Linked DNA regions of Homo sapiens: regions 1, 3 and 4 are each linked to region 2. The links come from fine-mapping of genetic effects on gene expression. A gene starts in region 2. Each other region holds a variant in brackets. All regions are shown on one strand. Distances are from middle to middle. Region 1 overlaps MCM5 (minichromosome maintenance complex component 5). Region 2 holds the start of TOM1 (target of myb1 membrane trafficking protein). Region 3 overlaps TOM1 (target of myb1 membrane trafficking protein). Region 4 overlaps HMGXB4 (HMG-box containing 4).

Region 1 (5,147 bases), 110 kb after region 2:
GGCTCATGCCTGTAATCCCAGCATTTTGGGAGGCCGAGGCCAGTGAATTGCCTGAGGTCAAGAGTTCGAGACCAGCCTGGCCAACATAGTGAAACCCCGTCTCTACTAAAAATACAAAAAGTTAGCTGGACATGGTGGCAGTTACCTGTAATCCCAGCTACTTGGGAGGCTGAGGCAGGAGAATCGCTTGAACCCGGGAGGCGGAGGTTGCAGTAAGCCGAGATCCTGCCATTGCACTCCAGCCTTGGCGACACAGCAAGACTCTGTCTCAAAAAAAAAAAAAGAAAAAAGAAAAAATATTACTGCCTTATTGTCCGGTGTGGGAATAGTCATTAAGATGGGGAAACTGAGGCTCAAAGAGAAGTGACCCAGACAGAAGACCACACAGCAGGTTTTGACAGAACTTGAACTAGAATGTGGGCCCCTGCCTCCCAGGTTTGTTCTGTGTTGTACTCTACAGGTCCAAGGATGTCGCCATCAGAGCTGGGGTCAGGTCTCTCTCCTGGCACCTGCCACTTTGTAGTGAAATGTGCTTAGTGTATCTCTTGCCCTGCCACCTCCCCCCCCAATTGTGCTGCGAGGTCTTTAAAAGCAGGAGCTGTGCCTGAGGCTCCTCTGAACCCCAGGGTCCAGATAGCCTGGCACTGGGTGGATGCTCTGGAAGCATTTTTTGAGCGGAACAGAAGAGCTGTGGCCCTCCCTGCAGCTCTGTGCCCACCTCCTCCAGGCTCCTGCCCAGGATATTTACTGGCATATCTCAGATGCGTCCTGGCTCCCCTTAACCAACAAGCTTCCCGATGGCTCTATTACAGTCGGACATGATGTCACACCTGGTGAAGATCCCTGGCATCATCATCGCGGCCTCTGCGGTCCGTGCCAAGGCCACCCGCATCTCTATCCAGTGCCGCAGCTGCCGCAACACCCTCACCAACATTGCCATGCGCCCTGGCCTCGAGGGCTATGCCCTGCCCAGGAAGTGCAACACGTGAGTCTGTGGCCCAGAGGGACTGTGGGAGGTGACCTGAGTGAAGATCAGAAAGGATGAGAACAAGTAGCAAGCACTGCCTGCAGCTGCTTCTAGAGATCCACTGGGATGGGCTGGGCAGGGGTGTGCCCTTAGGATTGGCACAGATCTGATGCCCTGTGGCTCTGAGACACCATGAACAGGGTCCCTCTACATTGGTGACTTCTGTCTCACCAGGATACCCAGACAGCGTTGTAGGGAACCCAGGGTTGGGAGGGAAAAGCAGTCCAGGGTAATGAGTCTACTTGGAATCTTCTGAAGCAAACTATGGTTTGCTCACTAGGCCAGATCTAGCCTGCTGACCCTATGGCCCAGGAACACGTTCGTTCATTTAAGTATTGCCCACAGCTGGTTTCGCACTACAAAGGCAGGGTATGTGGCCTCTTGGCTGGCAGAACCTGGAATGCACATCCTCCGGCCCTTTCTAGAAAATGTTTGCTGCCCCCAGTCTGAAGGAACCCCACCCTCTTCACTGGCTGCTCTTTCTTGGCTCCTTCGCTGGTGCCTCCTCAGCTTCCCATCCACCTGTGGCACAGCTGCCTCATTCCATGCTGTTGACATCTCTCACTTGGAGAGGCACGCTACCTCCTCCCTGATCCCCCGCGTCCACCCTCCACCCCCTCAGTCTGTTTTCCACCCAGCAGCCAGGTGTCCCTTGACACTCAGGTGGTCCAGTCATTTACTTCTTAGTCAAGTCCTGCACAGCCCACCACGATCTGCTCCTGGCTTCCCCAGGCCTCGCTGCCCCTCCTCTCTCCAGGCCCGGCCTCACTGCCTCCTTCCTGTTTCTGGAATACACTGACTACCCCCAGTCTCACTGCCTTTGACCTTGCTGTTTCCTCTACTGGGAGTGCTGTTCCTCAAGCTACCATAGTCTGTGTCCTCACTTCTTCAGGCTTCTCTTCACATGTCCCCTTACCAGGGGCATCTTGCCCAACCCTTCATCTTCAGTTTGGTGTGCACGTACCTCGTCTCTCCCACACCTGCCTACTTTTTTACTTTTCTTCACAGCATGTAGCTGTCACTCTTTAATATGATTGTTTGCTTGTATGTCTTTTCAGCCTCCCTTGATAGGAACTTAGGCTCCACAAGAGCAGGGACCTTTTTGTTCAGTGCTGTGCCCCCTGCACCTGGAATAGTGTCAGACACATAGTAGGTTTTGCTATGATGTTTACTTCTTTATGTTGCTATAATATCTATTGAATAATGACATAATTACCTAGGGATACGTAGAGGCTTAGACCCTCAGAATGGTCTAGAACTGCCTAGAATCCCACTGGAAAAGATCTTGGGATTTGAGTGGGGCTTTAGTAAGAGAATTGATGAACTAGCTCTTCACCCATGAGGACACCATGATCCTGCAAGAAGACCGAGTGTGACCTGTCTGCCTCCTCTCAGCAAGTTAATGGAAGGACCCAGCCTCAAGCAGTTCCCTTGACTCTTAATCCAGTGCTAGGTCCGTCAGTGTTGCCTTCCTTTCTTACCTCCAGGCAGCGTTGCCTGCCTGGCTTATCTCCAGCTTATTCTGGAGACCCCCATAAATTGCCGCTGGCAACGTCTCCTTGCTGGCTCCTGGGATGAATGAGCCCTGCCTTTGGATTCTCCAGGTAGCTTTGGTGACTCTTTTCCCTTACCTTGTACAGAGATCAGGCTGGGCGCCCCAAATGCCCATTGGACCCGTACTTCATCATGCCCGACAAATGCAAATGCGTGGACTTCCAGACCCTGAAGCTGCAGGAGCTGCCTGATGCAGTCCCCCACGGGGAGATGCCCAGACACATGCAGCTCTACTGCGACAGGTGAGGCAGACGGGCTGGGAGGTGGGCATCTACGACGGTGGATGTCCCAGCTGTGGCCCTAACCCGAGTGTTGGGAGTGGGTCATCTGGAGCAGGGTGAGTAGGGTGGAGAAGGTGGCCAGTTGCAGAGCACCTGCTCTGTGCCTAATGCTTCCATAAGTTCCTCTCATCTCGTCTTTCCATAATCTGCAGGGGC[A/G]TGTCAGCCCCATTTTGCAGATGAGGAAATGTAACTTGGAGAGATTAAATGACTTCCTGTGTGGAGGAGAGCCGGGCTTTCAGCCTATGTGCATTGCTTTCCAAAGTCTGTGTTCTTCTTAGGATAAGAGGCCCAGGATGCACAGCTAGATAACCAATAGCTGGCAAAGCCTCTTCCCAGCCTGACACCCCACCTCCTACCCCAGGCTTTCTTTTTTTTTTTGAGACGGAGTCTGGCTCTGTAGCCCAGGCTGGAGTGCAGTGGCGCGATCTCGGCTCACTGCAAGCTCCACCTCCTGGGTTAATGCCATTCTCCGGCCTCAGCCTCCCGAGTAGCTGGGACTACAGGCGCCCTCCACCATGCCCAGCTAATTTTTTGTATTTTTTAGTAGAGATGAGGTTTCACCTTGTTAGCCAGGATGGTCTCGATCTCCTGACCTCATGATCCGCCCGCCTTGGCCTCCCAGAGTGCGTGGATTACAGGCGTGAGCTACTGCGCCCAGCGTACCCCAGGCTTTCTGTTAAGATCCTGCTGAACAGCCACGGTGGCTCATGCCTGTAATCCCAGCACTTGGAGCGGCTGAGACAGGAGGATTGCTTGAGGCCAGGAGTTCAAGACCAGCCTGGGCAACATACTGAGACCCTGTATCTAAAAAAAAAAAATTTATTAGCTGGGTGTTGGGGCAGACACCTATAATCCCAGCTACTTGGGAGGCTGAGGTGGGAGAATCACTTGACCCCAGAAGGTTGAGGTTGCAGTGAGCTGTGATTACACCACTCCACTCTAGCCTGGGTGACAGAGCGAGACCCTGTCTCAAAAAGGAAAACAAAAAAGATTCTACTGAGGGGGAGAGGGTACTGAGCTTGGGCCCCTCATAGTAACCTGGGTGGAAGGTTTTGAGATCTTTGATTAGGGTTCTAACCTGGGCTTGCATATCCTGAAATTGCATGCAGATGTTCTGAGGAGAGCGGATCTGTAGCTTCTGTTAACTTCATTAGTGGCAACAGAGTATGTAGGGGTCAGGCTCTTGCTCCCTGGGCAAGTTATGTGACTTTGTCAAGCTTCAGTTTCCTCATCAGTAAAATGGGGATAAGGACAGTCCTTAATCTCTCAGAGGGCTGCTTGAAAATGCATGTGGTGTTTAGCACAATTCCTTCATGCAGATTACGTAATCAGGATGTATGATTTTCCAAGCAGTTCATGAATCCTGAAAACTTACGAAGTGGGTATGGGAAGAGGGGAGTTGGAGGCTCATGGAGTGACGGTGATGGTCTTTTCTGGAGCTGTGATGCCTGATGGTATAAAGCACTTCTATGTCTGCTGCCTCACCTGACTCCACAACATGAGAGGCAGGCCACTTCGTCATCCCCCTAGGCTCAGAGGTGCAATGACTTCGTTGAGGTCACACAGCGACTAAGTGTCCCTCCACACCACCCTGTCTCTGACTGGGGGACTTGGAGACTTCCCTGTTTCAACATCTCATTTTGAAAACAGGAAATGAAAACCCAGAGGCAAAATGAGCTCACAGAGCCATGAAGAGGCAAAAAGGGCGAGTGGCCCCTCAAGGAGGCTGGGGGGCGTGAAGAGGAAGTCTTGCCCTGAGAGGCTAAAGGGCACCACACAGTGAGCTGACAGCAGACACGTGGAGATGGGGCTTTTGGAGGGCTCTGTGGGCTGGCACTAAGCCTCCTAAACCAGCGTACAAATGAGTTAGCGAGTTCAGCGAGAGTCAGGCCACCACCTGCCTTTCTGTTTGGCTGTCACTGTGGGCAACACCATCCTCCAAGCAGCTGAGCATGGGCTGAGTGACGTGGGGAGAGAGGCCGTTCTCTGGGCTCCGTGGGGCTGGAGCCAGCTCAGCATGTGGTGCCTGTGGCAAAAATGCTGCAGTGGACCCTGCGTGTCCTGGGCATGGGTGGAATCAGAGACTTGCTGTCCAAGTCAGAATCTCAGCTTTTCTCCTTTCTCCTCTACCCTCCTCTCAGGTACCTGTGTGACAAGGTCGTCCCTGGGAACAGGGTTACCATCATGGGCATCTACTCCATCAAGAAGTTTGGCCTGACTACCAGCAGGGGCCGTGACAGGGTGGGCGTGGGCATCCGAAGCTCCTACATCCGTGTCCTGGGCAT
Region 2 (5,147 bases):
TTAAAGACAGTTTTAATCAGTTTTGTACTAACTTTAATGTTTGCCATTTACATCCCTATCTACTATGTTGATAAAATCCATATACTGGCCAGGTGCAGTGGCTCGTGTCTGTAATCCCAGCACTTTGGGAGACTAAGTCAGGAGGATCATTTGTGGCCAGGTGTTTGAGACCAGCCTGGAGAATATAGCAAAACCCCATCTCTACAAAAACTAAAAGATATTAGCCAGGTATGGTGGCATGCATCTGCAGTCCCACCTACTCAAGAGGCTGAAGTGGGAAGACACTTGAGCCCAGGAGATCAGGGCTACGGTGAGCTACAGTTGTACCACTGTACGCCAGCCTGGGTGACAGAGACTCTGTCTTTAAAAATAAATAAATAAATAAATCCATATACTTCCATTTCTGTTTCAATAGCTATATAGTAATCAGTTTGCATGGAGTTGTTTTTCTTTTTTTTTTTGAGACGGAGTCTCGCTCTGTCTCCCAGGCTGGAGTGCAGTGGTGCAATCTCTGCTCACTGCAAGCTCCGCCTACCAGGTTCACGCCATTCTCCTGCCTCAGCCTCCCGAGTAGCTGGGACTACAGGCGCCCACCACGGCGCCCACCACCACGCCCAGCTAATTTTTTCTATTTTTTTAGTAGAGATGGGGTTTCACCGTGTTAGCCAGGATGGTCTTGATCTCCTGACTTCGTGATCTGCCTGCCTGGGTCTCCCAAAGTGCTGTGATTACAGGTGTGAGCCACCGTGCCCAGCCTGCATGGAGTTTATGATTCCACTTCCTGTTTGGGGGCATATGAGTTGTCTCTGTTTTTGTTTTTTTTTGTTTTTTTTTTTTTTTTTTTTTACCATGAATAAAGTTTACAAGAACTTGTTAAAAGCTTAAAGGAAGGGCCAGAGATGGTGGCTCATGCCTGTAACCCAGGGCTTTGGGAGGCTGAGGTGGGAGGATCACTTGAGCTCAGAAGTTCAAGGACCAGCCTGGGCAACATAGTGAGACTTTGCCTCTAAAAATAAATAAATAAAGGTTAATGGAAGAATCCAAAAGAAGTTCATGCTAAACATAACTCCATATGACCAAGCAATAAGGTTAAGTGAAGAAAGACATGGAAAGTGCCTTGACCTGAAGGTCATCTTAAATGGCCTTCTCCCCGCTTATACTCCAAATACCATTACTGAAACGTAGATCTATTTAAGCTTTCATGTGCTAGTTACTGGGTTAGACAATAGTGGGGAGCAAAACAGAAATAGTAGCCCAGCCCCCAGGGACATCCAGACTCGTGGGGGCAAAGGCATTTGTGAACAGGTCTCATGAGTGTTGTGGAAACACTTCAAAGCAGTTTTTATATTGTACAGTAAAGACATCGGACCCCATGGCTGCTCAAACAAGTGAATCTACAGAGGTGATTAAGTTCTAATTTAGGTTTGTTTTTTTTTTTAAGACACAGCCTTACTCTGTCACCCAGGCTGGAGTGCAGTGGCACGATCTCAGCTCACTGCAATCTCTGCCCCCCTGGGTCCAAGCAATTCTCATGCCTCAGCCTCCCAAGTAGCTGGGACTACAGGCGTGTACCACCACACCTGGCTAATTTTTGTATTTTTAGTAGAGACGGCATTTTACCATGTTGGCTAGGCTTGTTTTGAATGCCTGACCTCAGGTGATCCACCTGCCTCAGCCTCCCAAAATGTTGGGATTACAGGCGTGAGCCACCACACCTTGCTTAATTTAGGTTTTCTGTCATCCAAAATTTGTGCAGTCAATTTACTAGCCTTTCAGATTTAAAAACCACAAACATCACAATAAGTACTTAAGCACCCACAGTAGCCAGACTACTAAGGCCATGGTTATTGTATTTTTGGAGTACATGCCAGAAGAAAAGGTCATAACCCATAGATAGGTATCTAGTGTGTAGGTGTCAGCAGACACACCACACACAGCCAGGAAGGCTGAAGAGATTAGAATCACAACGCTGGGAAAGGCCTTTGAGATTCTTAGCTTGGGGTCCACGGTTGTACTTCAGGGACCCCAGAAACTCCCTGAGGTTATAAGCAAAATTGTATCGCTGCCTTTTTTCTTCAGAAAGGCTCATGGCTTTTGTCAAATTCTCAAAGGAGACTGTGACCTAAATAAAATATTTTTTAAAAATGGTTACGAGTCCTTGATCTAATTCCAGTATCTAGAGAAAATGGGAGCTATGTTTGGCTCACACAGTAAATTTATGGCAGAGACGGGTATTAAAGCCCCACTCGTGACTACATCTGTGCTTTTTGCCATCCTGGGCGCTAGAGGGAATTGCGCTGCAATTCATTAAATTGCCTCTCAGTCTCAACAGATGACAAACCCCTTGCCCTTGCCTCTGATTTAAGGTAAGATAATTTGGGCTGCGAGCAGGGTGCATCTTGGAGCGGGGAGACCTTGACATCAAACAGGAAGAGTCTTACCGGGACAAGGAGACAACAGCCCAGAGAGGCTGTCACCCAGGGTAGGTGTGCAGTCACAGTGAGGTCCCAAGGACTAAGGGCTATGACCCTAAGAGTCTCGGCTTCTGTGTAACTCACCCAAGTCACTTCCCTGGTCTACGACCCAGTTTCCCAAATGTGTAAAGGGTCCTTTAGACCTCGCCCTAAAAGGTCAGGGGCGTGGCTTAAAGAGGACCGCGCTTCCCGGGCCCCGACCCCAGACCCTACATCGTGTGTGACGCCCGCCGCCGCCGAGCAAGCCGCAGTGAGGTCATCGCCCTCCGCCTCGGGGGCGGGACCCTGGCGTCTCAGGGCGGGGCTTGTGGTCGAGCTTCGCGGTGCCACCGCCCCGCCCACGCCTCCTCGCCGGCCTCCGAGTGCGTCACGTGACGGGTCGGTGGCGCTGGCGGTTGCTGTCAGCTGATTCCCGGGGTTGGTGGCAGCGGCGGTAGCAGCAATGGACTTTCTCCTGGGGAACCCGTTCAGCTCTCCAGTGGGACAGCGCATCGGTGAGTCCCTGGAGCCCCCCACAGCTCCGCCCCGGTGCTCCGCACCCAGCTTCGGTCCCCTGGGAAGCCTCCGGGTGCCTAGTCACGGAGGCAGGGAGGGCAAGGAGGCTGGCGTGTAGCTCTCCGACCTGGCTCCGCCCAGCTTTCCTCCCACTCTTGATTGACAAGAACTTGGGCCATTAGGAAGCCTTGGCTTGTGATAGATGTATATGACAGCCAGTAGGTAAGGAGAGAGGGTGGGTCCGGATGCCCACGGCGCAGCCAATGTGCGTCTGCTGGGGTCCCCAATCGAGGGAGAAAGTTTTCGTGGTTAAAGGGACTGCGTGGTTGGCAGTGGCTGGGCCACTCTGCTGGGTCCCGCCGCCTGGGCTCTGGCCAGCTCCTTCCTGGCTCACCGGGCCCTCCGGACACAGACACCTGAGAAGGGCTAGAAGTCCCTTCTCCCAGGACCGCGAAGCCCCGGGCTTGGCGTCTTGGGGCCAACTGGCCAGAGGGGCCCAGCGCCGGACAGCCCGCGGCCAGGCCTCACAGACCCGGGTCTCAGGACGTGTCCGCCTGGGCTCTTTTCTCGACCCAACCTCAAATGGACCCGCACAGACTCTCAGAACCTGAGCAGACAGTGGTCGGACAAACCCTCCTGGTCAGCCCATCTCGGTGCTCCGTAGGTGGGGCAGCCGGGAACTCGGGCCAAGCCAAGCCCAGGGCACCTGGCGCCTGTCTGCTGGTCCGTGGTTCTCTGCACCCTGGTGACAGGATACTCACAGTTCTGTGACGCAGCCTCCCTGGGCCGAGGTTTCCTCACCTGTAGTTGGCGGGCAATAATGGTCCCCACCTCCGTGGGCTTGTTGTGAAGATTAAATTCCTTAATAAATGTGAAATACTTAGAACAATGCCTGGTACATGGCCAGTGCCATATAAAAAAAAACAGTTGTAATATTTATTATCACTGGGCTGGGCACGGTGGCTCCCGCCTGTAATCCCAGCACTTTGGGAGGCCAAGGCGGGCAGATCGCTTGAGCCCAGGAGTTCGAGACCAGCCTGGGCAACATGGCGAGACCCCGTCTCTACAAAAAAAAAAAAAAAAAAAAATACAGAAATTAGCCGGGCGTGGTGGTGCGTGCCTGTGCACCCAGCCACTCGGTAGGCAGAGCTGGGAGGATTTATTGGATCTGGGAGGTCAGGGCTGCAGTGAGCCCTGATGGCGCCACTGTACTCCAGCCTGGACGACGCAGGGAGAGCCCATCTCTTGAAACACATACACATACACACACACACACGCACACATATATATAAAAATATACACATACAAACATACATATACATACACATACATATATATTATATGTATTTACACACACACGTTGTTCCTGAGATCACCAAGTGAAGGTTAGGAATCCCTGGAAATCGCTTGGCAGTAGATCTCATAGGTGCTCATTCTTGGGCACCAACACCATGAGAACCGACATGCCTTCACCCAAACAGCCACACTTCTCCGGAGGATGGTTTGGGTGTTCCGCATTCTTGCATGAAGAAACCATCGCATTACCGTGAAATTACTCTTCATCTTTTTTGATGACGACTTTTCGTCTTAAGTCCAGACTGGGAAAACTTTAAGATGAGACATATTTTCCATTCTTAGTGTCTTGCGAAACCTCACGAAAGCTTGTCGACCCGGCTCTGTGTTGTAATCGCCACCGTGGCTGTCGGTGGCTCTTCCGAGGTTTTGTAATCAATGCTCTCCAAGGGGGAGGTGGCAGTCCAGGATTTACACACCAGGAAGCTCCTGAACCAGGGAGAGGAACTGCCCTCTCAAAGGACCCCTGCCCTCCCCGGACACACACCCACCCCACAGTGAGTCATGGTTTTTTGGAGCTGAAAAGAGAAGGCAGCTCTCCTCTCATCTATATTTCTCTGACTACAGAAACCACTGCTTTTATCACATGCCAAGTTTAAGACTTACTACTTAAAAATAAACAAGTAAATAAAAGACCTGGCTTCAAAGTCAGCCACATACTCTTAAGGCTTTCTGGAAAAGCTCACCTGGGTTCTGGATTTCAGCTAATCAAAGCAAACTTCTCTTCTTACCTTGAAGCGTTGCCTTTCTTGGGCAAGAAATACTTCTGTGCAAAGAGAATGCTACTAAATCATAATACCTTAAAGCACAAATGGAATTTTGCAG
Region 3 (5,147 bases), 29 kb after region 2:
GGACATGTTAAGACATCAGGTGTGCAGTGATGTTACTCCCAGACTCCTCTGTAATTAAGTCCCATCTGATTTGGATACATGGGGTTTGTGATCAGTAGTTTTTCCACTCACTCATACCAAGAGTGTTCATTAAGTAAGCCAAATAGATCAAACATTTTGCAGGTTTTGGAAGGTGTCAGTGAACCATAGTGGATATACTACTAGTCTCTACACTCCATTTCTTCATCTATAAAAGCAGGGATATTGATGTCTACCATGGTAAAAAATTAAGTTAGCAATATATGTTCAATGCTTGGCACTTATTAGGTAGTCTATAAATGGTAGCTGCTGTCACAATCATGAATGTATATAGTGACACTCTGAAATCAACTATAACTCAGCCACATGATTTAGAATGTACCAGCATTTCTCAAAACATAAAAAGGTTCTTCAGTCAAATAAATCTTAGAAGCTTTCAGACTGATCTTTTCCCAGGCATTCCCAGTGTGCATGAGGGCATTAAACACCCTACAAGGTCCCACAGCATAAGATCCTTATACCAATGGCCTTTCACAAGCTAACCTCTTTGAGGAGACTGCAGCTTTATTGAAAATGTTTCCCCAAGCCCAACTCCTTGGAACCCTTTGACCATTGAAAACCTGCCCACATCCCTTGGAACAAGTGCTAAATCTGAGTTTCATATTCAAGGTGGGGTACAGGGCAAGGACTATCCTTAGATGAGCCTGGGACACCAAAATAGACCAGAAACAGGACAAAATCCCAGTCCACTAGGAGGAGAAAGAGGGCAGAAGCCCAGTCCACTAGGAGGAGAGAGAGGGTGGAATCCCAGTCCTCTAGGAGGAGAGAGAGAGGACGGAATCCCAGTCCTCTAGGAGGAGAGAGGGCGGGATCCCAGTCCTCTAGGAGGAGAGAGACGGCGGGATCCCAGTCCTCTAGGAGGAGAGAGGGTGGGATCCCAGTCCTCTAGGAGGAGAGAGAGGGGGGGATCCCAGTCTTCTAGGAGAGAGGGCGGAATCCCAGTCCTCTAGGAGGAGAGAGAGAGGGCAGAATCCCAGTCCTCTAGTGGGAGAGAGAGAGAGGGCCTGCAGCGTCCCTCCCCGCCTTGTGGGGAGCCACCCTCCAGGGCCTTGTTAGCTGCTGTGTTAGACCCAGGAGATGCTGGAGTCTTCCAGCCACACGTGGTGGCTCATTCCGGTGTGGAGATGGTAACGGTTGGTAGCGCCTCTGTGAGGGGTCTGTAGAAGGGGTGGGGCAGGCCTCTAGTGCAGAGCTGTCACTTTGGGAGCCAGGAGGGAGGCTGCCTAGAGAGGCTGCTGGGAGGTCGGCTCCCTGGTGCTGCACCCAGGGTTGGTGGTACTGGGTTCTGTCGCTGTGAGTAACATGGGCCCCAGAACCCTGGCTTCTCTCACCACGATCAACTGTGTGTTTCAGATTGGGAAGCTGCGCAGTGAGCTGGAGATGGTGAGTGGGAACGTGAGGGTGATGTCGGAGATGCTGACGGAGCTGGTGCCCACCCAGGCCGAGCCCGCAGACCTGGAGCTGCTGCAGGTGAGCAGGTGGCACCACCCCCTGGGGCTCAGATGACTCCTGCCCAGCTGCCCACATGCATTCTTTCCCAATCCTCATGACAGTCTTCATGGCTTACTCCATACTCCTTGGTCACAGTTGGGGACATGTTACCACCAGGGACTTTGGACGCCATCAGATTGGAATCAGATCGCAGCTCTACCACTTTCTGGTTTGAACAAAGTAGCCCCCCTGGCCTCAGTTTCCTCATCTGTAAGATTGCTCTAACAATAGCCTTCATGGCACAAGTTTGATGTGAGTTAAATAAGGTATTGCATGAAAAACACGCAGGCTTGTGCCTGGTACAGAGTAAAGCACCCAGTAAGGGGTCCTGAGAAAAAGCTGGAAGGTGAGATTTACACCATTCAGAATCCGAGACTCAGCAGGCAGGTGTGAGAGGGTGGTGCCAGCCTTGAGATGCGCCAGCCACTGATCTTGGGGAGCCAAGGCAGGTGGAGCTAGTGGTTCCTGCTCCCGGGTGTCACATGGTATTCCCACGGCCCCAGCCCAGATTGGGGGTCACTGGAGCAGAAGGGACACTGAATTTGGCAAAAAGCACCCTCCCCATGGAGGCCAGTCATAGAGGCACCAAGAGAGCTAGGAATCCCCAAGGCCCAGGAGTCACCAGAATCCATGAGGAGACAGAGCGCTTCGTGTAACTGTTCGAGTTCCTACTGCTCGTCCACCAGGCCTCAGGCTCCTTGAGGGCAGCGCTGTGTCTTCCTCGCCACCGTGTCTGTGTGCCTGACCGAGCTGACTCTGCAGGGGTCCTCACTTGGTGGTGCAGGGTGGGGAGAAAAGGAGTAGCCTCAGAGTCCAGTGAATACACAAACTTGAAACCCAGTAAGGGCTCCGAAAGAGAGAAGACTGCGCAGGCAGCCTCGCAC[G/A]CCCCAAGCCAAGGCCATGAGATGTGAGCAGTCTGGGGACTCAGAAGGCTGAGCAAGGTGGATGCAGGGACAGCTCCCATGCACTGGGCACTTCCCGTGTCCCGGGCTATATGTGGACACTTGGTTCACATCGCTCACGTAATCCTGACCACCCCCATTTTCCAGGTCAGGAAATAGGCATAGGGAGATCAGATAACACGTCCAGGGTTATATGGCTGGTAAGTAGCAGAGCTGCGATTTGAACCCGGGGGCCTGGCTCCAAGTGCTGCTCTTCTGCTCTTGAGAGGGGCCAGCAGGGAAGCAGAAGCAAAGCCACCGTGTGCTTGGTCATAAGAGCAGGAGGGGAGCCCACAGGATGTTGAAAGGCACCCGCCCTGTCCCCGTGCTAAGGGCGATGAGGAAATCCCGGAGGCCTGACCTTGGAGGGGGCAGGGGACAGGGTCCACATGACAGCCAAAATAAACACTGGGCAGTGCCGAGCCTCAGCGTTGCCTCCAGGAGAAAGGCGTGCTGGCGTGAGGCCACAGTCGGCAATGCCGGGCAGCTCCCTGGACCTCAGGACCCAGGCACCTGCCGTGACCCAGGAACCTTCACCTGGTGGCAGGTACCTGAAGAAATAATTGACCAATCTTAAAAATGAAAACCCATATGGCTATGGTTTTTTATTTTTTTATTTTTTTTGAGACGGAGTCTTGCTCTGTCACCCAGGCTGGAGTGCAGTGGCGCGATCTCGGCTCACCGCAGCCTCTGCCTCTTGGGTTCAAGCTATTCTCCTGCCTCAGCCTTCCAAGCAGCTGGGATTATAGGCATACACCACCATGCCCGGCTAATTTTTGTATTATTAGTAGACACAGGGTTTCACCTTGTTGGCCAGGCTGGTCTTGAACTCCTGACCTCAGGTGATCCACCCGCCTCGGCCTCCCCAAGTGCTGGGATTATAGGCACGAGCCACCGGGTGTAGCCATTTTTTTTATTTTTCATAAGTTTAAATATGACACCTAGTGGTTAAAAGTCGGTGACGTGATAACTAAATGCAGTGTAGGATCCTAGAACAAACAAAGGACATTAGAGGAAAAACTAGTGAAACCTGAATAAAGTCCGCAGTTTAGTTAATAGTATTTTACCAGTTTTAATGTTTAATGGTAGTTTACCAGTTTTGACAAATGCCAGACTAAGGGGAAGCCAGGGTCAAGGGTATATGGGAACTTGTGGTACTATCTTTGCATCTCTTCTGTAAATCTAAAATTATTCCAAAGCTAAAAGTTTGTTTAAAAAGACAAAAAATCAGGCAGTGAGAAAAGTGAGGCAAAAACTCGAAATCGAGGTTTGTGGCTAATGGTTGCAGTCATCTAGTTCATTCTGTATGCTTTGGTTGCAAAAATCACAGCATACCCCCAGAAGTTGTGGTTTGTTCAGCCAGCCCCCTTTGCAGACTCAGTTTTTTTTTGACTAAGCAAAGATGGTGGCACAACCTTTATTCTGGAATCTGCACGAAGCCAAGTTAAACCGGCAGCACAGTTGGACATGTTGATGGTTTCCTGTGGATTAAATTTTAGCATCTAACACTTGGAAGTGAAGTTCAAGTTCATGTTTGTAGAACCCAAAAAGCTGTTCCGTGGAACCTTGAAGTCCAGTTTGGGCACCTCACCCTCCTCCAAGGCTTGTGCAGGGGCTGGAGGCCCGTGCATTAGAGATGGCCTCACTTGGCCAGGCGCGGTGGCTCACGCCTGTAATCCCAGCACTTTGGGAGGCCGAGGCAGGCAGATCGTGAGGTCAGGAGATCGAGACCACCCTGGCTAATATGGCGAAACCCCGTCTCTACTAAAACTACAAAAAAAAAAATTAGCCAGGCGTGGTGGCAGACGCCTGTAGTCCCAGCTACTTGGGAGGCTGAGGCAGGAGAATGGCATGAACCCAGGACACAGCTTGCAGTGAGCCAAGATCGCACCACTGCACTCCAGCCTGGGCGACAGAGCTCCGTCTCACAAAAAAAAAAAGAGACGGCCTCACTCTGAGTCATGTGACTGTGGTTGCCTCACTTCCTTTCCTGGCAGGAGCTCAACCGCACGTGCCGAGCCATGCAGCAGCGGGTCCTGGAGCTCATCCCTCAGATCGCCAATGAGCAGCTGACAGAGGAGCTGCTCATCGTCAATGACAATCTCAACAATGTGTTCCTGCGCCATGAACGGTAGCCCCAGCACCTCCCCTGGCCTCTGGCCTACTGCCCCAACCCTCTCCCTTCCCTTCCTCCCTGTTCTCCTGGTCTCATGCCATCTGAGCCTTCTCTCGTCCTCCTCTCAAACACAAGGCAGGCTCCTAAGGGCCTGTGCCCTCAGCTGTCTTCTTCCAGGATGTTTATGAGGGCCCCTCCTTCCAGCCGCCCTGTATCTCCTTTCCAGGGTTAGCGCTGCTGCCTGTGCCCAAGTCCAGCCCTGGGAGATGGTCACAGGTCACAGCTGAGAGCACGGCCCTGCAACCAGACTGGCCTGGTGTGTCCTCGCCCACTCCACCACTTCCTGGTTCTGGGGCCTTAGACAAGTGACTTCACTGCTGCAAGCTACACAAAACATTTCTGGCTAACTTAGGCAGAAAAAGAATTTGTTAGGATAATAATCTTTATTAAATGGGTAGCTTTCAGAATCCAGAGAAAAGTGAAACTGATGTCTCCCAACAGAACAAGAAAGATGGATCCCA
Region 4 (5,147 bases), 29 kb before region 2:
GGCCTCATTCCCTTCTACACTTACTGTAATAAGTAGCTTTTTTTTTTATTCTACCGTGCAGTTAATCTCACACATTGATGCTAGAGTAATCTTAATCTTAAGTAGCACCTTGATGACGGCAGTCCTGTGTTCTGCATCTTCAGTGGATTCTTACTGCTTTTTTGGTAGACTCTAAGCTCCAAGAGGACCAGGACCACGTCTGTCTTGCTATCCCTAGTGTATAACCTGCCATCTGGCCTATTGTAGACAGTCAGTAAATACTTGTCAAAGGAATAAATATCAGGTAAGTTGAAACCTTAGCCAAACATTCATTAAGTGTCTGGATTTAGCCTAATCCTCCCTTTTCAGCTTTACCTCTTATTAGTCTATTAAACATACACTGTATGGAAATCAGACTTGTTTCCCATACATTCTTACCTCTATTCCTTTGCTCATTTTTTACAGTGACCTTCCTCTTCTTACATATTGAAGCTCTGCCCTCTTTGCAAGACCTAATCAAATGCCACCTCTTCTAAGACATTCTGTACACCCCTCATTAGAATTAACGTCTAAACTCCCATATTACCTTGCTGTCTTACTGCACTTATTTTCTTCCTTATATTGGCATTATCTTTGTACATATTCTGTTTCCCTTATTAAAGACTATAAGGGAAGACTGATGCTTAGAATTCATAGAAGGAGCTGGGTGCAGTGGCTCACACCTGTAATCCCAGCAGTTTGGGAAGCAGAGGCAGGTAGATCACTTGAGGTCAGGAGTTGGAGACCAGCCTGGCCAACATGGTGAAACCCCCATTTCTACTAAAAATACAAAAATTATCTGGGTGTGGTGGCATGCGCCTGTAATCTCAGCTGCTCTGGAGGCAGAGGCAGGAGAATTGCTTGAACTTGGGAGGCAGAGGCTGCAGTGAGCCGAGATTGTGCCACTGTACTCCAGCCTGGGTGACAGTGTGAGACTGTCTCAAAACAAACAAACAAAATAGAATTCATAGAAGGGGCTACACCCAATTTCTTTAACTTAGCAGCACTGTCTGCTTGGGGCAGAATGTAAGCTCCTTTACCACCTTATAGTATCTTCAACTCTTCAATGTCCTTAATAAGCACTTTGTAAGTATATGTCGAATGAATATGTGGATGAAAACATAGTACTGAAAAGGTAGGTTGGGAGCAAATTGTAGAGAATCTTAAATGCCAAAGTAAAGGACTTGGCAGCAGGCAGTTTGGGGTTTATAAGCAAGGTTTATTTATGATCTAAATGATAAGAATAAAATGATAGAGTTGTACAAGGTGGATTAGAGTAGGGAGAGACGAATAACCAAGGGAGTTACTATAGTCCAGAAGGTTAGTAATGAAAATCTAAGAGACAGGAGGATCGCTTGAGTCCAAGAGTTCAAGGCTGGCCTGGGCAATCTAGCAAGATCCAGGTGTGGTGACGCATGACTGGAGTCCCAGCTACTCCTGAGGCTGAAGTGGGAGGATCAGTTGAACCCAGGAGTTCAAAGCTTCTGTGAGTTGTGATTGTGCCACTGCACTCTAACCTGGTTGACAGAGCAAGACCCTGTCTCTTTTAAAGAGAAGAAGAAAAAAAAAAGGCTTGAGAGAAATAAAATTGAAGAGGTTGATTCAAGAGAGGCTCTGAAGGAAAAATTGACAAGATCTACCTACAGCAGGGGTCCCCAGTCCCCAGACCACAGACCAGTAGCCGTCCGCGGCCTGTGGGGAACCAGCCACATAGCAGGAGTTGAGTGGCGGGCAAGCCATTGAAGCTTCATCTCTATTTACAGCCACTCCCTGTCGCTCACATTACTGCCTGAGCTCCACCTCCTGTCAGATTAGCAGCGGCATTAGATTCTCATAGGAGCACAAACCCCAGCAGGTTCCTTATGAGAATCTAATGCCCGATGATCTGTCACTGTCTCCCATCACCCCCAGATGGGACCATCTAGTTGGAAGAAAATAAGCTCAGGGCTCCCACTGATTCTACATGATGGTGAGTTGTATAATTATTTCATTATATGTTACAATGTAATACTAATAGAAATAAAAGGCATAATGTAATGAATGCACTTGAATTATCCCGAACTCTGCCCCTACCCCTGCCCCAGGTCCATGGAAAAATTGTTTTCCACGAAACCGGTACCCGGTGCCAAAAAGGTTGAGGACCGCTGACCTAGTGGGCTTGTATCTGGGAAGCCAGAAACATAAATGAGTCTAAGAAATATCTCTTCAGCTTTGAACCTAGATAACGTTGGAAAAATAGTAAGCTCTTCAAAGTTAAGGACTTATCTATAATTTGCCCATGTGGCTAGCAGTTGCTAGTGAAAAATGAATTTTAATTTATAGCAAAAACCTTATTAAGAGTTAATATCTTTGATTGTGGCTGTCCAAAAAATCTGAAGTAGTCATAATCTGAATTTAATCATTTATTTCTCCAACAAATATTTATAGTGTATATACTGTGGTTTTTAAACCTGATTTGTGCATAAAAAATTCCTATAAAGCTTTTTAAAAATATATTTTCCTGGGTTTTGTTTCACTGTAAAAAAGAACTGTATAAAAGTCAGGGACAGGCAGGCGCAATGGCATGCACCTGTAATCCCAGCTACTTGGGAGGCTGAGGTGGGATCACTCAAGCCCAAGAGTTTGAGACCAACCTAGGTGATACAGCAAGACTCTACCTCTTAATTTTTTTTTTTTTAATTAGCCAGGCATGGTGGCAAGCACCTGAGTTTCAGCTACTTAGGAGGGTGAGGCAGGAGTATTGCTTGAACCCAGGAGTTCACAACCAGCTGGGCAATATGACAAGACCCTGTCTCAAAAAAAATAAATAAAAAGTCAGGGACAAAGTCCACCCAGAGATAGAAAAGAATGATTTAGGAGTAGTGTTTCTTCAACCTACAGTGAGCAGAGACTGGAGAAACTACTGGTAGAAATGCCAAAGGCCTCTGTGCACCCCTTCTACCTTAGATTCTAGGACCAGGACTCTAATAAAAATAGAGAAGGTGAGAAGAATAGCTGGTTTGGGAGAAGAAGATAAGTTAATTGAGATCGGGAG[A/G]TTCAACATAGCTAAGTCGTTGAGAGCGTGGGCTGTGGAACCCACCTGAGTTCAATTCCTGGCTCTATTCACCCACTTACAAACAATGTGATGTTGGATAAGTTACAGAACAACTCCATCTCTAAGTTGAGGATAACAGACTTGCTTCCTAGGGTTGTGAGGATTAAATGAGGCAATACATGCGGAAGTGTTCAGGGCCTCGGTGTGCCAAGGCGCTCTGGGACGCCACATCAGACTCACCAGGACAACGCTTGATATTTTAAATACATTTTGAGACAAACAACAATACTTGACATCTCTCAGATACCTTACGAACTACTAGTTCAAAGTAATTCCCAGTTTCAACAATGTATGTTACATTCTTTTCAGTAGTGCCATATCTTTTCAAAGCCAAGTGTGTGTGCTCTAGAGGTAAAAAGCAACTACCACATTGAAAACCCACATAAGCACTGTGAACCAAGAACATTGGAGAACTTTGTCTTTGCACAATGCTCAGCACATTAGTGAGCATTCAATAAATATTATAATCATCTCAGTGGCAATGGAAGTTCAAGACCCAGAATTTGGCTGGAACTTGGGTGAGAAATTGGGTGTTCATGTGTGATAAATGAAATAGGTAAATGGATAAGAGGAAATTGAGCTCAGAGCAGAATTTTGTAGAACACTTATACAGGGGCATTTATATAAGAGAAGGAAGAGGGGGCGGCTATGTTGGAGGAGAAACACAGAAGGGAGGAGAAAAACAGTTTCAAGAGTAGAACAATCTCATGCTAGAGAGGCCAAGGAGTTCAAGTGCAGTAGGTAGGAATGGAGCTGGATCAGGGGTTGAGGAAAGAGTGAGCGGTGTGGAAGTGAACGCAGCAGCGGTGGGCTCTTACTTGAGAATTTTGACTGACACAAAGAAGGGAAATTACACTATTTCCTGGGTGAAAAGTAGCCTTTCAGTTGTTTTGGAGGTGGTTTTTGTTTGGTTGGTTGGTTGGTTTTACTGGTTTTGAGTCCTGCATTCTAAGGAAGAGTAGAGAAATTATATGGTAATATCTTGATGATTTCCCACTAAAGATCATCTCATTGCAGTGGAAGCTTTTCATTTATATAGGAGGAGCAGGATACAGTTACATTTTAAATATACCTTACTTTTGGTTTTACCCCAAATAAAAGCCCATTTTTTTGTCACTTAAAATAATAGCCAGGCGTGGTGGCTCACACCTGTAATCCAGCACTTTGGGAGGCCAAGGTGGGTGGATCATGAGGTCAGGAGTTCAAGACTAGCCTGACCAACTTGGTGAAACCCCATCTCTACTAAAAGTACAAAAATTAGCCAGGCGTGGTGGCGCGTGCCTGTAATCCCAGCTACTCAGGAGGCTGAGGCAGGAGAATCGCTTGAACCCGGGAGGCGGAGGTTGCAGTGAGCCAAGATCACGCCACTGCCCTCCAGCCTGGGCAACAGCGAGACTGTGTCTCAAGAAAATAAATAAATAATATCCCGTAATGTTGCCATTTCAGAGACATGCCTTTAGTTATCTGTGTGTTTCCAAAATATGCACATTTTCTCTAAACCTAAGGCAGGGCCAGGTAGCCTAATGCCTGGCACACCCAGACATTGTTGATCTAATAAACAAAAGTCTGAAACATAACTAGACTTGTGATGCTGTTACATTAGTTCTCTCTCTGGCAAACCTGAGGCTAAGTAACAGCAACAATAAATGGTAGAAATTAGTCACTACCATCTATTGAGTGCCAGGCTCTCCTAGGCATTTTCCGAATGTTACCACTCTTGATTAATAATTATCATTAGCCCCACTGACGGAGGAAGAAGCTATAATCTTTCCACTATGCCACATGCCTTTCCACAACTTTAAGACATGGTTACTCCGTGCCATGATAGATCTTTGACTCAAATTCAGCAGACTTGGATTCTTACTCTGGTCTGCCACTTACTAGGTCTGTTCTCCTGAGATTGCTTTCTCACTTCTGCTCATTTGTAAATTGGGGTTAGATTAAATTAGGTGGTGCATGTAACATGCTTAGCACAGGGCATGGCTTAGTAAATGTCAGCTGTTACAGTTACTTTCGCTTACGTCTTAAGTTCTTC

The links. PIP is the estimated chance that this variant, and not a neighbour inherited with it, causes the effect.
Region 1: its variant is the best candidate, but not a certain one, in a credible set for the expression of TOM1 in whole blood (INTERVAL, PIP 0.53).
Region 3: its variant is the best candidate, but not a certain one, in a credible set for the expression of TOM1 in whole blood (INTERVAL, PIP 0.87).
Region 4: its variant is the best candidate, but not a certain one, in a credible set for the expression of TOM1 in whole blood (INTERVAL, PIP 0.66).

Annotation. Positions count from the first base shown.
Region 1 is chr22:35,405,741-35,410,887 of GRCh38, forward strand. MCM5 (minichromosome maintenance complex component 5) reads left to right here. Exons shown (of 17, transcript NM_006739.4): 5 at 813-985; 6 at 2,668-2,823; 7 at 5,004-5,147. Among named protein-coding and RNA genes, the nearest start is that of MCM5, 8.2 kb to the left of the region's middle. RefSeq lists enhancers at 4,319-4,378, 4,469-4,688, 4,769-4,908. The variant A/G (reference allele first, on the strand shown) is at 3,019.
Region 2 is chr22:35,297,013-35,302,159 of GRCh38, forward strand. TOM1 (target of myb1 membrane trafficking protein) reads left to right here and starts at 2,882. Exons shown (of 15, transcript NM_005488.3): 1 at 2,882-2,968. The coding sequence starts at 2,917. RefSeq lists enhancers at 2,457-2,979, 2,906-3,055, 2,980-3,502, 3,456-3,615, 4,026-4,547.
Region 3 is chr22:35,325,840-35,330,986 of GRCh38, forward strand. TOM1 (target of myb1 membrane trafficking protein) reads left to right here. Exons shown (of 15, transcript NM_005488.3): 7 at 1,432-1,548; 8 at 4,508-4,641. Among named protein-coding and RNA genes, the nearest start is that of MIR3909, 7.2 kb to the right of the region's middle. RefSeq lists enhancers at 2,737-3,031, 4,521-5,021. The variant G/A (reference allele first, on the strand shown) is at 2,454.
Region 4 is chr22:35,268,416-35,273,562 of GRCh38, forward strand. The region is part of intron 5 of HMGXB4 (HMG-box containing 4); the gene reads left to right. Among named protein-coding and RNA genes, the nearest start is that of HMGXB4, 13 kb to the left of the region's middle. The variant A/G (reference allele first, on the strand shown) is at 3,053.